Linked DNA regions of Homo sapiens. The protein of the gene in region 1 interacts with the protein of each later gene in a biochemical or structural test. Each region holds a gene or a part of one and is shown in the gene's direction. Other genes may lie near its edges. The genes, in order: CARTPT and SDHB.

Region 1 (8,688 bases):
AACAAAGGCAGACACATGTGTAGTCATTAGTGTTGTTCCATAATGTTTGCATTCTAGGTACTTGTTAACACTGTAATTCTTAGTCCTTTTGACTTTGGTGGAGCTGTGTGATTACTTCAGGCTAATGAGTTGGAAGGAAAAGTGAAGTATCACTTATGAGTCAAAGCTTTTAGTTGTTCATTAAAGACTGTCCAGAACTCTTTTTTCCATTTGGAACAAAATTAGCCACTTTAGAGATGGTGGATGATCTGTCAGTCTGGGTCCCTGAGTGACGATGAATAGAACAAACTCTTTTTTCCATTTGGAACAAAATTAGCCACTTTAGAGATGGTAGATGGTCTGTCAGTCTGGATCCCTGAGTGACGATGAATAGAACACTCCATCAATTCTTGATGCACATGGGACACGAGTGAGAAATATAACTGCATATTTTTTAAGTCACCAAGATTTGGGAGTTGTTTGTTGTAGCAGCATAACCTAGTAAATTCGGTGCAAAATTAAGAAATAAGGCTGATGTACCTACAAAGTAAAATATATCTGATGGAACTGGTTGGGAGCAGAGAAAAATGAGATTAGAAATATGGCCAGAGCCATATTATAAGAAACTTCAACACCATGCTGAGAAGTTGACTTGAACCTATAGACAATGAACAATCACTGAATGATTCAAAATTGCTCCCTATTAAGTCATATAGTTAATTTCTTGGGTATTCTAATCAGCTGCTTTAGTGCTAGTTTTACACTTTCTGTAAGCTTAGGAGATCTGGATCTGGAAAAGTTAGAGGAGAAGATGGTGTTAGCGGTGGCATGTAAAGTGTGGTTTTGGCATGCCACCCCTGCCGCACTCCAACAAGGTGTGCTGTGCTGGGATCCAGATAAATGTTTCCTTGTCCTAGGAAACAATCTATCTCTTGGTCAGTGCTATCTCCCTATATCTGAAAAGGACCACTTTTCTCAGGCTAGACCTTTAGGTTAAAAGCTTGTTTTTAGTATTTGAAAAATGAAATCTTTTGGGTTCATCTGTGCTCCTACCACCTGTTTATTGGATCCAAATTTGGAACTATCTATTGCCACTCTGGATTTTCTTTTTGTGCTCCAAAGTTCCTTTTCAGGCTTGTTTCCCATTATGCTTCCCCGTCTCTCACATTCCCATGCACCCTGCTCTCCAGCAACCCAGAGCACTCAGTGCTCCCCAGATCTCCTACCTTGATGACTTGACTTTGCTGCCTGCCCGCCCCCAAGGTCCCAGAGTGGGATGTTTGCTATTGTTGGAATTCTACCCATCCCCTAGGACTCAGTAGCTCATTCAAAGGATGCCCCTTTTTCACGAAGATTCCCTCTTGTGGCAATGAATCTCTGACTTCTCTGGGCTCCTCTTTCTCTAGTAGGACCCTCATCTCACTAAGTCATTGTATTTTAGGAGTTTGTGGACGTGGGCACAAATGACTAGACCCAAAGATCCTCAAGGCAAGAAGTGTCTGGATTATCTCAGCAGTCCTCAAAATACTTAGCAGAGTTGTGAGCATATAGGGCACCCAGATTTTAAAATTAAGTCTTGAAATGGAAAGCTTTTCAATTGGAAGCTTAAAAAATTGACTGAAAAGCTTTGTTTAATTTCGCCTGCTTTGCTCCTTCAGAAGCAGTCTGTAAAGCACATGTTCTTTGCTACTGCATCTCCACCCCTCCCAATTTAGAACCGACTCCAAGTGTCCTTTACTTACAGATTATTTTCTTTCAGATAGTGATAAAGATGTTTAGTTAGAACACAGTGAATAGCAGTTCCTTTGGAAGGCTATGGCTTGGAAGTAAACAGAACATAAATGTCAATGGGAATTAATCTCTCTTCTGCAGGGAGGAAGAGTGGAGAGCAAACAATGTAGAAATGAAAAAAAGTCACCCAAGAGATTGCATATGTGTACCAAAGAGAACAGAGTGATGTTTAACTTGGAGGAAAGTGCAACTAACACAAATAAGGAGAAACAGTCTTAAATATGAATATTTAGGAAGTCAATAAAACTGAGGACTTACCAAAATTTAAATTGAAATTTTAAATTTTTATTTTATTTTTGTCACAGGGGCTCACTTTGTCACCCAAGCTGGAGTGCAGTGGTGGTGTGATCATGGCTCATTGCAACCTCAACTTCTTGAGCCCAATTAATCCTCCTACCTCAGCCTCCTGAGTAGCTGGGACTACAGGCATGTGCCACCACTTCTGACTAATTTTTTTTTTCTTTTCTTTTTTTTTTTCTTTTGTAGATATGTGGTTTCACCATGTTGACCAGACTGTTTTTTTGTTTTGTTTTGTTTTGTTTTGTTTTTGAGACAGAGCCTCGCTTTGTCACCTAGGCTGGAGTGTAGTGGTGTGATCTCAGCTCACTGCAATCTCTGCCCTGCTGGGTTCAAGTAATTCTCCTGCCTCAGCCTCCCAAGTAGCTGGGATTACAGGTGCATGCCACCACACCTGGCTAATTTGTGTATTTTTAGTAGAGATGGGGTTTTGCCATGTTGGCCAGGCTGATCTCAAACTCCTGACCTCAGGTGATCCACCTGCCTTGGCCTCCCAAAGTGCTGGGATTACGGGCGTGAGCCATTGTGCCCAGCCAGACCAGACTGGTCTTGAACTTTTGAGCTCAAATAATCCTCTTGCCTCGGCCTTCCAAAGTGTTAGGATTACAGGTGTAAGCCACTGCACCTCGCTGAAATTGAGGATGTTTTACTGTTGAACAAGACTTGGTTGGGGTGAGGGATGGGAGAGGAGGGTTAATGGTTAACAAAGTAGTCTGATATTTGGGAAATACGACAACCTAAGAGGCCAGTGTTATTCTGAGTTACATAGGAACAGAAATTATTCACAACTGAAGGAGAAAGGAAGGGAGAGAGAAATACTAAAGCTTAGGAAAAAACATCACTGTGGTGTTAAATTCTGCCATGACCTTCTCATTACTTAAAATCTTAGGGCTCTAGGGTTCTAATTTAGTAATATTGAACACATATGTTTTAAGGGGTGTGTGTGTGTGTTTTCTTTTTTCCAAGAACAATACAGACATCGTTTTCTTGCCAAGTCACAAATCAATTGATGGGTTATTTTTATAGTGAAAAGTTCAGGACTCCAAGAGTTAGGCATGAGTAAGAAGAGGTTTTTAAAATGTTCTCAGATAGCAGTATGTTGTAAGTAGATCTTGCTGGCACTGGTTTCTTGGCTGTCTGCTTATGAGATTTCTTTACTTGAGCTATTTCAAAGAGCAGGACTGGAGGCCTACTCTATCTCAGAAAAGATGATTAAGAGAGATTTGTTCACATTAAATCTCCAAAGACCCATCCTGGCCATTGCTTCTCTTTCATGAGGTGACCTGCCTCCCTTTTCTATATCTGGGGTGAGAAGTAGTAGTTAAATTCCATATGATTTTAATTGCTTGGGGCATCAGTGATGGGCTTTTTTCCCCTAATGGAGTCATTACAAAGTAGTAAGAATATACAAATTCTCCTAACAGGGCATAATATGAAGACTGTGGAATGTCTCATGCTTTTGTTTCTTTTTGAGTTTTAACTTACATAAAAGTTGTCTTTGGGAAGAAGATAGCCTAGAATTTACTATACCATGCTAGCTAAAGACAGTTTATAAAGTCATTCTGTTCAAGATGAAGAAAAGCCTGTGGTATGTAAGTGACAAAGATGCCCCTGGCTTGTTTCACAGGATTTTCCAAGAGTCCTTTCCCTAACCCCTTAACTAAATGTGCCTTCCTTATAAGAAAATGATAGCACCAACTCAAGTTCAGCAAGATTTAAACTTTGGATTTTTTTCCAATAGAAGTAGCACAAAGGGAAAGTTATTACTTGTGTCTGGGTAGAACAAAATTGGAGAGAAAGTATTGCATTGACAATATCTACATCCTTCAGGAAGAATAGGCTAAAATCTTATTTGAGATTATTTTTCTTCTGAAGCTTAGAATAGTTTAAAGATCACTGGAGATGGTTTTTGCAGTGAGTGTCAATATGTCTCTGTAAGGTTTTAACAGTAAAACGTGCTGCCACTGAAGTTTTCTTGTGCAGAATCAAAAGGTATGTGTGGAAGGCAGAGCTGAGGGAGGTGTTAGATACATTTTCAAGTTGGGTTTACCCCACAGCAAAATATTTTGATGCTGTTAATATGTGTGCTATTCATTAGAAGAGATATCACTTCTTGAATTGCTTCCCAGTGAGTATTTGAGTACCAATTAAATACTTGATAGTTGAAGTAACCAGGCATATATTGTGTATTAAACTATCTTAATGACCCACATAATCTGCTATGCAATAAATTTGTGGGAGAAAAGTATTGATAGATGGTTTGGATTGAGTAGTCATAGATATTTACACTGAGATTTAAATAACAGAAGTAGTGAGCCTTTTGGAAATACAGGAAGACCTTTCAAGGAGGGGTAAGTGCAAAGACATCAAAGTATGAATGAGATTGGCCTGCTAGAGGACCAGAAAGAAGGCCATGTGAGGTTGGAGTGGAGGAGTCTGGGGCAGAGTGGTAGAACATGAGGTGGAGAGGGGTGAAGATCATATAATGCTTTGCAAGTCAGGATGAGGAATCTAGATTCAGTGCTTAGTAAGATTAGGAGTCATTAGTGTATTTTAAGGGGAAAAATACTCTGGTTGGTGGTGAACTATGGAGTAGAGGAAGGCAAGAGAAGATAGGGTGGGGATTAAGTGGTAGACATTAAGTTGACTGGGGCAGCTGTCTAGGACTGGGTTGTAGTAATGGGGATGGAGAAGAGTGGATGAATTTAGGAACAGTTGAGGGAAAGATGGTGTGGTGAAGGAAGCCAGGTGAGCAAGCAGGTCTAAGCGGGAAAGCATTGCTTTTCCTACAGGAATTTTCCTGTGCATTCAGGCTGTAAGGATCTCAACTTTTAAAAAAGCCACATTGTTCTCCCAAGTTGTTGGGGAGCTGGTTCACCATTGACTTCTGATCTCTGGAGATATTTTCATAATCATGGAGCTGTCTTTCTTTTCACTCTTTTACTCTCTTTCTAGACAGGCTTCTTGGATACCAAGGGTTGGTGGTGGGTGGGGGGAGGTTCTGGGGATGGTTAAATTTGCCTGGGCAGCCTCAAAGTTCAAAAAGGAGGGACAGGGAAGCTTAGCTAAGAACCAGGAGTTTGACATACTTAATCTCTCATTTCATCCTACTGATGACTTTGTGAGGTATATCTTTTTAATCCTAGATCTACAAAAGAGAAAGCTGAGGCTTGGAGAGGTTCTTCATTTTGTTCAAAGTCATACAACTTTTACGTGGTGTAGCCAGGATGGGAACCAGAGCCTGGCTCTCTGCACTTCCAACACCACTGCTGAATCCGGGTTTGTCTGTTTTCCCTCTCTTCTTTTAACTATTGTCACACAGATTCCATCATAGAACCCATCACGTGGAGGGCCACTATTTCTCTTTCTTTTGTATAGTATGTTTGCTTCCCCTACCCCACAGAGTAAGGTGCTCAGCAAATGTGGCTGTCTGGAGGCAACACCCCCTTCTCACCGCCACACTTGGGGTTGGGGTGCGAGGCAAGGCAGGGCTGGCGAGGTGGATGTTGCAGCTGTCACCACTGCTAGGTGTTGGGAAACGACTCTCCTGCCTGTGCATTGACCCGAAGGCATTTTCCATTTCCTAGGCCCCTCCCGCTTCCCGTCCCTCACCTCTAGCCCCTCGGCTTCAGCTCAGGCCCCTCGGGGAGCATCCCTTGCCGTGAGACTGACAGCCTTTGGGGGCGCAGGGTCCTGTTCTCTGCGCTCTAGCCCATCTGTGCGCAGAGCCTCGTTCCCAGGCGCCTGGAACCCGGCGGGCATTGACGTCAAGCGCCGGCGGAGCGCTGCCTACAGACGGTTGACCCGGGCCCTCCTCCACACCCCCTTCCTTCTTCGCCTCCTCCCTCTTTCCTGCACGGGGGCTCGGGCTCACTATAAAAGGTGGGAGCGCGTGGTGCCCCAGCAACGACGAGTTTCAGAACGATGGAGAGCTCCCGCGTGAGGCTGCTGCCCCTCCTGGGCGCCGCCCTGCTGCTGATGCTACCTCTGTTGGGTACCCGTGCCCAGGAGGACGCCGAGCTCCAGCCCCGAGCCCTGGACATCTACTCTGCCGTGGATGATGCCTCCCACGAGAAGGAGCTGGTCGGTATTCCCCTCGCTCTCGACCCCCTTGAGCTGTCGCCTTGTCTCTTCTCTTGCACGCCTCCCTCCTCCCCCCACCCCCACTCCTATTCCCAGAGTCAGGGCGCGGGGAGCTGAGCGCAACGCCCAGGCACCCACTGCCATCCGAAGAGCGTCTCGAGCTCACGGGCTCCTGGCAGTCTGTTGAGCGAATCCCTCATCCCGGCCCCTCTGAGCAACAGGGACCCCAGCGGCTCAGAGACCCGCGGTCAGTACCTGGGACAGCGTCCGCTAAGTTTCCACCCCTCGACCATTCCCTGTGTCCGCGGAGTCCCACCGCAGAGTGCGTGTGGGTCCGGGGCTCCTTATAACTAGGGCTGGAAGTGCGCACCTGGGCTGGGCTCGCAGCCAAGGCGGCAACTTCAGGCTCCGAAGCGGTGTGTTGCAGATCGAAGCGCTGCAAGAAGTCTTGAAGAAGCTCAAGAGTAAACGTGTTCCCATCTATGAGAAGAAGTATGGCCAAGTCCCCATGGTAAGGTTTGTGGTCACTCCCTTCCCGTGTTTTTCCAAGAGAAAGTACACCGCCTTGAATCGTACACACAGTCTTCTCCGTAGGATGTGGCTAAATAACTTAGGTAATGGGCTTGCAGGATTCTGTGGGCTCCTTCTTCCTTCCCGGGTGAGGAAATGGGAAAGCAGGAACAGGGGTTGTAAGAAAGTGTAAGTCTATTGTTTGTTGCTCAGGAAAAAGGTCTGATTTTTTTCCCCTCTGAGAGGGCAAGAAAAGGAGCCAGGAAATGTGATGCTCCCCTTCCCACGCCCCCCAACCCTCGCCACTTAAAGGTGGAAGAAACTAGGATAAAACTAATAATGTAAGTTTCTTTAAAAAATGTACTCTCACTGAGGTTATAAGCACAAGGCTCCCTGTTTCAGATCTGACTGTACGTAGACCTCTTGTGATGGTGATGGGGTCCAATTGCCCCTTTCAAGAGACAGAAATTGCGTTGACTGTGAGACTTGCCTGTTGGGAACCTGGGTTTGTTCATACTCGATGACCACACATTTTGTTGTTTCAGTGTGACGCCGGTGAGCAGTGTGCAGTGAGGAAAGGGGCAAGGATCGGGAAGCTGTGTGACTGTCCCCGAGGAACCTCCTGCAATTCCTTCCTCCTGAAGTGCTTATGAAGGGGCGTCCATTCTCCTCCATACATCCCCATCCCTCTACTTTCCCCAGAGGACCACACCTTCCTCCCTGGAGTTTGGCTTAAGCAACAGATAAAGTTTTTATTTTCCTCTGAAGGGAAAGGGCTCTTTTCCTGCTGTTTCAAAAATAAAAGAACACATTAGATGTTACTGTGTGAAGAATAATGCCTTGTATGGTGTTGATACGTGTGTGAAGTATTCTTATTTTATTTGTCTGACAAACTCTTGTGTACCTTTGTGTAAAGAAGGGAAGCTTTGTTTGAAAATTGTATTTTTGTATGTGGCATGGCAGAATGAAAATTAGATCTAGCTAATCTCGGTAGATGTCATTACAACCTGGAAAATAAATCACCCTAAGTGACACAAATTGAAGCATGTACAAATTATACATAATAAAGTGTTTTTAATAATTGCCCATAGTGCACTGCTGTTTTCATATAAGTAATTTAAGTGGAAATGGTGAGATTAATCATGCTGTTGTTTTCAAAGAAAAATATTTTAAAAATAGCAGCCTATTGGGAAAATGGCACCTTAGCTCCAAGGAGTTTTGATCGTTAATTAGAAGTTTGCCAAGCCAGTTTTAGTATACTCTATTTTTCTTTGATTGCAGCGATGTGGTGTGTGTATGTGTGTGTGTATGTGTGTGTGTGTGTGTGTGTGAGAGAGAGAGAGAGAAAGAGAGAGATGAATGAGATGGAGATGGTTGGAGTTGAGGTTATATAATTTTGTTTATTAAAACCTTTAGCCAGACCCTTTACTTTAAACAGTGAGACCAATAAACTATAAACAGTTTCATGTTTTAGTCACATTAAAAGCAATTTGAAAAATTAGAAATTTTGTTTTGACAACTCCCTTATTAGAAAATATACATTGATTTAAAGATATGGGCTGTTTAGGGTTGTTATTTGTCTAAAGACTCCAAGGTTATAAGACCCATTCATTCCCACAAGTAAATTCACACTCTTGGAAAAAATTCTCTATTCCAGGAGAAAGAGTCATTTCAGAAAATAGTTTTGAGGGGAACAAATAAAAATTGGAGGAGGTGAGAATTCAACTCAAGAAATTAAAACATATTAAATGTAAAGTTAAGTAGCTTTTAAATATTTCTGAGTGCTTATTTGAGGTCACATTTCCAAGGGTTTAAACCAGACTAAGTAACATCTAAGTAGCAGCATCATGAGAGAAATAAATGTTAACAGCTTCCTAATCCAAACTCAAGAGGCACTTGCATAATAGCAGAATTGAAAAATAAAGCCCCTCCACGGATTCATAGGGAGTTTTCTGATAGAAAATATTCTTATACACAGTTACCATTTTCAGTGTGATTATTATTATTAGCATGCCTAATCTTGCAAGA
Region 2 (8,508 bases), on another chromosome or scaffold:
TAGGTGGCAGAGGTTGCAGTGAGCCAAGATCACGCCACTGCACTCCAGCCTGGGCAACAGAGCAAGACTGTGTCTCAAAAAATTTGCCAGGTGTGGTGGCACACTCCTGTAGTCCGAGCTACTTGGGAGGGTGGGGTGGGAGGATCACTTGAACCCAGGAGGTCGAGGCTGCAGTGAGCCATGATTCCATGCCCTACACTCCAGCCTGGGCAACAGAGGGAGACGCTGTCTCAAAAAAAAAAAAGAAAAGAAAATATAAGACATTGCCCCCTAGGAACTATTAGAACTAATGAACAAATTCAGCAAGGTTGGAGGACACAAAACTGGTATACAGAAATCAAATGTAGTTTAGTTTTTTATTATGCATAATTTGTCCATGTTTATTTCAACCTATGTCTGTCAGTCTTCATTTTATATTGTACCATGTTTTAATTATAGTTCTATTTCCTTCTAATCCGACTCTGAAACCCTACTTTGTAGCTATGTATACACACACAAAAAATAGCTATATTCTTTCATTTTCACAACAGCATAATTCTTTTTCTGAAAATACTGGCGTGTAGCAGATATTAGCAGATAAATGTATTTTTCTAGGCTAGGCATGGTGGCTCACACTTGTAATACTAGCACTTTCTTTGTGAGGCCAAGGCAGGAGGATTGCTTGAGGCCAGGAGTTTTGAGACCAGCCTGGGCAACAATAGCAAGACTTAGTCTCTACAGAAAAAATGTGTGTGTGTGTGTGTATACATATATATTTATATATGTATTTATATTTATATATTCATATTTATATAAATATTTATATTTATATATTCATATTTATATAAATATTTATATTTATATATTCATATTTATATAAATATTTATATTTATATATGTAAAACCCTGCTTACCTAGAAAAAAGCCTGTAAGTACTGTTAAAAAAACAAAAATTGGATTTCTATACACTAGCAATGAACAATCCTAAAATGAAATTTAAAAACTATTTTCCATATAACAGCATCAAAAAAGAAATTCTTAGGAACAAATTATATGGGCAATAAGACAAAACCCCATCTCTACAAAAAAAGTTAGCTGGGCTTGATGACCTTCCTGTGCCTATAGTCCCAGCTACTTGGAGGCTGAGGTGGGAGAATCACTTGAGCCTGGGAGGTCAAACCTGCAGTGAGCTGTGATCACAACACTGCACTCCATCCAGCCTGGGCGACAGAGTGAGATCCTGTCTCAAAAATCAAATAAGTAAAAGACTTATATGCTGAAAAACTGTAAAACATTGTTGAAAGAAATTTAAGAAGACATAAATAAATGGAAAGACATGCCCTGTTTGTGGGTTGGAAGACTTAATGTTGTTAAGGAGGCAGTGGTCTCCAAATTGATTTCCAGATTCATTGCAATCCCCATCAAAATCCCACCTGCCTTTTCTGCAGAAGTTGACAAGTTGATTCTAAAAATCTTATAGAAATGCAAGGGACCCAGAATATCAAACAATTTTGGTATCTATGTAAAATCTGAGAAAATTTATGTTGTACTCTTTAATGAGCCCTACCTATTAGGAAATTTAGCATGAAACAGCTTAAAGAGAGGACTTTGACTTTTTAATATTTTTCTCTGTCCCAGTATGATCTGCAGGATTACTTTTTACCTTTGATTTGAATTTATTTATTTATTTATCTATTTATTTATTTATTTTTTTGAGACAGTCTCGCTCTGTCTCCCAGGCTGGAGTGCAGTGGTGCGGTCTCGGCTCACTGCAACCTCCGCCTCTGGGGTTCAAGCAATTTTCCTGCCTCAGCCTCCCAAGTAATTGGGACTACAGGCACGTGCAACCACACCCAGCTAATTTTTTGTATTTTTAGTAGAGACGGTTTCACCACGTTAGCCAGGATGGTCTCAATCTCCTGACCTCATGATCCACCCGCCAAGGCCTCCCAAAGTGCCTCCCAAAGTGCTGGGATTACAGGCGTGAGCCACCCACCTGGCCAATTTGAAATTTTTATAGGCTGCAAATATTAGCCTTTGTAATGTAAAAAAAACAAAGATGTTGTTGTCATTTAAAATATGCTAGGACAAGAACAGGCAGATCATTAGAATAAAAATGTAGCAACAAAACAGACTCAATTTTATCTAAGTTCCCAGTATTAAATATGGGAGAAAGGTATTACAAATAAGAAGCAAAAGAGGATTTAGTCAGTGATTTGGGACAACTGATACAGTTTTTGCAGTTTTAGGGGAGTAACTTAAAATTTTTTTTAAGTAGAAAAAAATGTAAAGTATTTATCAGACCTCAGGAAGGGCAGTGGTCTGTTTAGGCTTAAAAGTGATAGATAATGTTATAAAAGAAAGAATAGCCACCTTTATTAATGTAAACATTTAACTCATGTATGTTTAAAATTCTGTTACCAAAATTAGAAGTCAAATAGCACATTACTATTGGCAGTGAGGGAGGAAGCAGAAATGGCAACAGATATAATATATAAGAGCCTCAGATCATGAAAAAGAATTTCCAAGACCCTGGTAAACAGAGGCAAAGAATGTGGACAGACTGAGTCTCTAGAATGAGTCCTCTGGAACAGAGCTTTGTGCGGGCAGGTGGTATTCGTCTCTTTTATTCTCTGCTACATCCCCAGCATCTAGAACAGAACCTGGCAGAGTAAATGTTCAATAAATAATTGGGAAATAAAGAAAAATTAGTAAATTTATGACAAACATTCAACCTATGTAGTATTCAAAAGTCTCGATTTAAAACACTGAAAACAATAACACTTCTCCAGTATCAGAATAGCAAAGGTTTTTAAAGCTTCCAATTCCCAGTGTTAGCAGAGGTCCAGCAGAAAGGACGTCTACATAGTGCTGATACAAATACAGATAATGGGCCAGACGCAGTCGCTCACACCTGTAATCCCAGCATTTGGGAAGGCTGAGGCAGGTGGATCACTTGAGGTCAGGAGTTTGAGACCAGCCTGGCCAACATGGGAAAACCTATCTCTACTAAAAATACAAAAATTTGCCGGGTGTGGTGGCATGCACCTGTAATCCCAGCTACTCGGGAGGCTGAGGCAGGAGAATCGCTTGAACCCGGAAGGTAGAGGTTGCAGTGAGCCGAGATCGCACCATTGCCTCACACCCATAATCCCAACACTTTGAGAATCCAAGGCAGGAGGATCACTTGAGTCCAGGAGTTAGAGACCAGCCTGGGCAACATGGCGAAATCCCACCTCTACAAAAAAATACAAAAATTAAGCTGGATGTGGTGGCACATACCTGTAGTCCCAGCTACTGGGGGGCTGAGGCAGGAGGATCTCTTGAGGCTGGGATGCGGAGGTTACAGATCTGAGATCGTGCCACTGCACTCCAGCCTGGGTAACAGAGCAAGACCCCGTCTCAAGAAAAAAAAGAAAAAAAATGAAATACAGATAGTACTAAAGGAAATGACGTATTTTTAAGTATATTTTTAATCTCATGCATAGAAAATTAGTGAGTGGAATGGGGGCAGGGTGGCAACCAGAAAATAGATTTGTGGAGCACTTACTGTATGCCAGGTACTATGAAAAATTACATATTTTTATGTAATTTTCACAGTAACCCTGTGGTGTAAATATTAACTCTACAGATAAACTGAGGTTCAGAGAGTAATTTCCGTAGAATCACAGTTTCTGCATGATGATTATTATAGTTAAACTATGATTTATATGTCAGATGCTGCTGTAAAGATCTCGTGTGTATTAACTCACCTCCAGCAATCCTGTGGGATGCAGGTGCTGCTCTCTGCACTCAGTGGATTAAATGCCTAGGCAGAAATTAAATCATTTGCCTGCAAGCTGGTAAGTGGCTCAGCCATGGTGCAGACCAGTCTCTTGGCTGCCAGGCCGGCACTCCAGGTCCCACGCCCAGGGATGCTCCGCTTAGTACCATGTCACTGCCCTTGTATGTTCTAGGAGGCTCACAGTGATTTGACTGGGGGACTGTGAGTGATTGGGTGTCTTTTATTCTCTGTACTATGTCTTCTCTTATGGTTATGTATTATTAATTACTATTTAAAACTATTGTCTACATCCTAAAAATCAAACTAAAATTTGAAATAAATTATTTGGAAAAACTTTGCAGGGAGCTTCAGAAGTAAAAAACAAAAACTCGGCCACTGTATGGAAGTTGTGTCATACTTGTCTACTACTACTTTAGCTTTCCATTTCCTAGAAATGTGTTTGCACTGTGATCATCAAAATAGAACTGTGCAGTACTTAAAATGTAAGAATCTGCAAAAACAAAACTACAGAACAAATTCCGAAGGTGACCTGAGAAGACCAAATGGATAAGCTAATACATCCAGGTGTCTCCGATTATATTATGATAAAGTGTAGGGAGGTTGAACGTTACATAAATACCACTGGATATTTTTCTTTGTTAGATGTGGCCCCATGGTATTGGATGCTTTAATCAAGATTAAGAATGAAGTTGACTCTACTTTGACCTTCCGAAGATCATGCAGAGAAGGTGAGCATTTCATTCCTGTTGGGCTCCAGATACTTGTGGTCTTCCAAAGAGGCTTGGGCTGGCCAAAGCTGATAGAGACATCTGGAAAACAGCTGCAGCTCTCTGCTGGGTGAACTTGCTGTGCAACCTAATTCCTTTTCTTGGGTAAATGCATCCAAAATTCTAACCATGGTGCAAGTTCTGGTTTCTGAGTTTACTTTCCTTCAGGAGCATTCTATCCTGTGGTTACTGCATCTGGCGGTCCCTGTGAGCTGCTCCACGCTTCAAGGCCTAGCTAGGACCTGCTGGCTGGCACCTTCCATGCTGCTGAGCTCTTTTATTAAGGGAGCAGTGGAGAGTTTCTGTCTGGCACTTATGCTTGTCCAGCAGGGGAGATGTGTGAGTCTCCCTCAGCTCCCAGCATGACATGTCCTTGGTAGCTGTGTTCTGGATTGGCTGGTACAGTGTCTCCCTCAGCATGTGGTTACTTGTGCTGCTGGTGCCACATGAGCCCATTTGAGGCAGTGTGCAGACTAACATTTTCTACATGAATAGCAATGTATTCATTTTCTGTATTAGAAAAATATAATTACTGCCGGGTGCGGTGGCTCACACCTGTAATCCCAGCACTTTGGGAGGCCGAGGCGGGTGGATCAGCTGGCGTCAGGAGTTCGAGATCAACCTGGCCAACATGGTGAAACCTTGTCTCTACTAAAAATACAAAAATTAGCCGGGCGTGATAGCGGACGCCTGTAATCCTGGCTACTCGGGAGGCTGAGGCAGGAACCCGGGAGGTGGAGTTTGCAGTGAGCCAAGATCACGCCACTGCACTCCAGCCTGGGCAATAGAGCGAGACAGTCTCAAAAAAAAAAAAAAGAAAAATATAATTACTAATGATGGTATAATAGGGATATAAGTGGTTTTTTAATGTGAATTTAAGCAAAACAAGTTAAAGAAAACCCAAGAGATACTTTAAAGAAAGTTGATTCAGGTGGTTCTCAGGTATAGCAAAAATTGCACAGGGTGCAGTGAAGACCGACTGGCCTGATGTCCGTGGAGCCAGACTGTGTGCCCGGCTCTGTTCTGTGCACTGGACATGAGGTAGATGACTGTGCTTATTATCTACCTTCAATTTAAAGGTGAGGCCCAGAGAGGGTAATGGACTTCCACAAGGACACATAGAGAGTGACTTGAGAGCCGGGAGTCAGCCAAAGCTGTCAGACTCCAGACTCCAGATCTGCTCTCTCAGGCACTGACTTGGCTTGGAACACCTGGGATAAAACAAAAGCAGAGAGTAGCTTGATTCTGTGAGGACACTGAGCTTTTTTCTAAGAAAACCTTAAAAAAAAAGGAAAAGCCAGTATTGATACCGGCCCATGGCTTTTTATCTGTTCAGCTGTACATTTCAAGCATTTCAAGTCTTTTAAGACATCTGTTTTGATTCAGCTAATCTTATTTAGCGTTGCAAATGCTGATGGATATTATGATAGTTCGGCTGAGTCCTGCTGTTCAGGGAACATTCTGCGGCAGTTAAACAGCAGCCTTCCCCATTAAGTCCTGGCAACACAGGAAAGGTAGATGCTTTTCAGTAACCTTTCCCTGTAGGACTCTTTCAGAACCAAGAACATAAGGTGTGACCCATCTGGACTAAAAAAAATAAAGCAGAATTGTATCAATTGCTACTCCTTTTTATTCCCATCTTGTTTTTCTTATTTTTTTTTTAATTCCCATCTTGTAAGAGAATTCCCAGGGAGCCTTTTTGAGAGAAAGTTCATTGGATTTATTTTTTTAATTTTTATGCCATTTCTTGTAAAAGCAAACTGCTCTAGTTGGATGCCAGGTATACATAAATGTATTGATAATATCCAGTCTCTTGGGGAACTCTAGGAGTATTTGCTTAAGACACATCTTTGGGTTCCCTTACACTCTTTCTAAGATTTACAGGAGAAGGAGAGTCTTACTGTCTTTTCTAGTCTTATGAAAGTGATAACCGACTGGGCGCAGTGGCTCACGCCTGTGATCCCAGTACTTTGGGAGGTCTAGGTGGTAGGCTAGCTTGAGGCTAGGAGTTTAAGACCAGCCTGGGAAACATAGACTCCCTTTCCATTAAAAAAAAAAAAAAAAAAGGTGAGGCCAGGCATTCAGAGGCCGAGGCGGGCAGATCACAAGGTCAGAGTTCGAGACCAGCCTGACCAACGTGGTAAAACCCCGTCTCTACTAAAAATACAAAAATTAGCCAGGTGTGGTGGCGGGCGTCTATAATCCCAGCTACTCAGGAGGCTGAGGCAGGAGAATCACTTGAACCCGGGAGGCAGAGGTTGCAGTAAGCCGAGATCGTGCCACTGCACTCCAGCCTGGGCGACAGAGCAAGACTCCATCTAAAAAAAAAAAAAGATGATAACCAGTGCAACTTTCTCAAGCAATCAGGTTTCTCTGACCTAATGATCTTCAAAAAACAGCTTCAGAGGACTGGCACTAGAGGTTTAGAGTACATAATCATTTTTAAATTCCAAAACACCCAGGAAATTTCCATATACAGGAAGTAGGTCCAGGCTAAGAAAATTCTCATGTCGGGGTCCTGGGTCAGCACGTTTTTTGTTTAGTTTGCTTTGCTTTGCCTCAGTTTCATATTAGTTCATTCTTCTCCTCTTTGGAAAGTCCATGCTGAGTCAGCTTTTGTGGATTTCATAGCCCCAGGGTACTATGCTGCGTATTTTATGAAGACAATAGAAGAAGCCTTACCTCTGTCAAGTGTAGTGGCTCAGGCCTGTAATCCCAACACAGTGGGAGGCAAAGGCAGAAGGATTACTTGAGGCCGTGAGTTAGAGACCAGCCTGGGCAATATAGTGAGACACCTGCTCTACAAAAAACAATTATTTTTTTCTTTTTTTTGAGATGGAATCTTGCTCTGTCACCCAGGCTGGAGTGCAGTGGCGCGATCTCTGCTCACTGCAACCTTCTCCTCCTCAGTTCAAATGATTCTCCCGCCTCACCCTCCTGAGTAGCTGGGATTACAGGCACCCACCACGACTTATATTTTTAGTAGAGACAGGGGGTTACCATGTTGGCCAAACTGGTCTCGAACTCCTGACCTCAAGTGATCTGCCCACCTCAGCCTCCCAAAGTGCTGGGATTCCAGGTGTGAGCCACTTCACCCAACCTACAAAGAATTTTTTTGAATTCGCCGCACATGGCGGCATGTGCCTGTAGTCCCAACTACTCAGGAGGCTGTGGTGGGAGGATCGCTTGAGCCCAGAAGTTTGAGGCTAAAGTGAGCTACAGTGAGCTATGACTCCACCACTGTACTTCAGCCTGGGTGACACAGCAAGACTCAGCCAAGAAAAAAAAAGAAGAAGAGCTATCTCTTAATAATCTGTATCCAGGTCACTTCAACCTTAAGATGACCAAGACAATGTTGATTTACTTTACTTTTGGGTATTGTGTCTGTTAGATTTGTGTTCAAATAACAGTGGCTTTAAAAAATCTAGGTTTCCAGGCGTGAGCCACCACACCCACCCCTACTCAGGAGGCTGAGGCAGGAGAATCACTTGAACTGGGGAGGCGGAGGTTGCAGTGAGCCAAGATCGCGGCATTGCACTCCAGCCTGGGCAACAAGAGCAAAACTCCTTCTCAAAGAAAAAAAAAAAAAATAGGCTTGACGGGTGTGTGGTGGCCCAGACCTGTAATCCCAGTGCTTCGGGAGGCCAAGGCAGGCAGATTACTTGAGCCCAGCAGTTCAAGCCCAGCCTGGGCAACATAACAAAACCCTGTCTCTGCAAGTCTCGTCTCTACAAAAAATACCAGAAAATTAGCTGGGTGTGGTGGGCTACTTCTGTAGTCCCAGCTACTTAGGAGGCTGAGGTGGGAGGATCACTTGAGCTCAGGCATTGAGGACTGCAGTGAGCTGTGATTGCACCACTGCACTCCAGCCTGGGTGACAGAGTGAGACCCTTTCTTTAAAAAAAAAAAAAAAAAAAAAAAAAAAAACAGGCTGATTTTTCTTCAAAACACGTGACACATGGAGCTAGAACTGCTGTG

The links.
Region 2: the proteins of CARTPT (region 1) and SDHB form a complex in vitro, tested with the Homo sapiens proteins (one study listed by BioGRID).

What each region holds. Positions count from the first base shown.
Region 1 is NC_000005.10:71,713,303-71,721,990, forward strand, and holds CARTPT (cocaine- and amphetamine-regulated transcript protein preproprotein), read left to right. Parts: upstream 1-5,972; 5' UTR 5,973-5,991; coding exon 5,992-6,150; intron 6,151-6,577; coding exon 6,578-6,661; intron 6,662-7,205; coding exon 7,206-7,313; 3' UTR 7,314-7,743; downstream 7,744-8,688. UniProt on the Homo sapiens protein: Satiety factor closely associated with the actions of leptin and neuropeptide Y; this anorectic peptide inhibits both normal and starvation-induced feeding and completely blocks the feeding response induced by neuropeptide Y and regulated by leptin in the hypothalamus.
Region 2 is NC_000001.11:17,029,043-17,037,550, reverse strand, and holds part of SDHB (succinate dehydrogenase [ubiquinone] iron-sulfur subunit, mitochondrial isoform 1 precursor), read left to right. Parts: intron 1-4,405; coding exon 4,406-4,491; intron 4,492-8,508. UniProt on the Homo sapiens protein: Iron-sulfur protein (IP) subunit of the succinate dehydrogenase complex (mitochondrial respiratory chain complex II), responsible for transferring electrons from succinate to ubiquinone (coenzyme Q).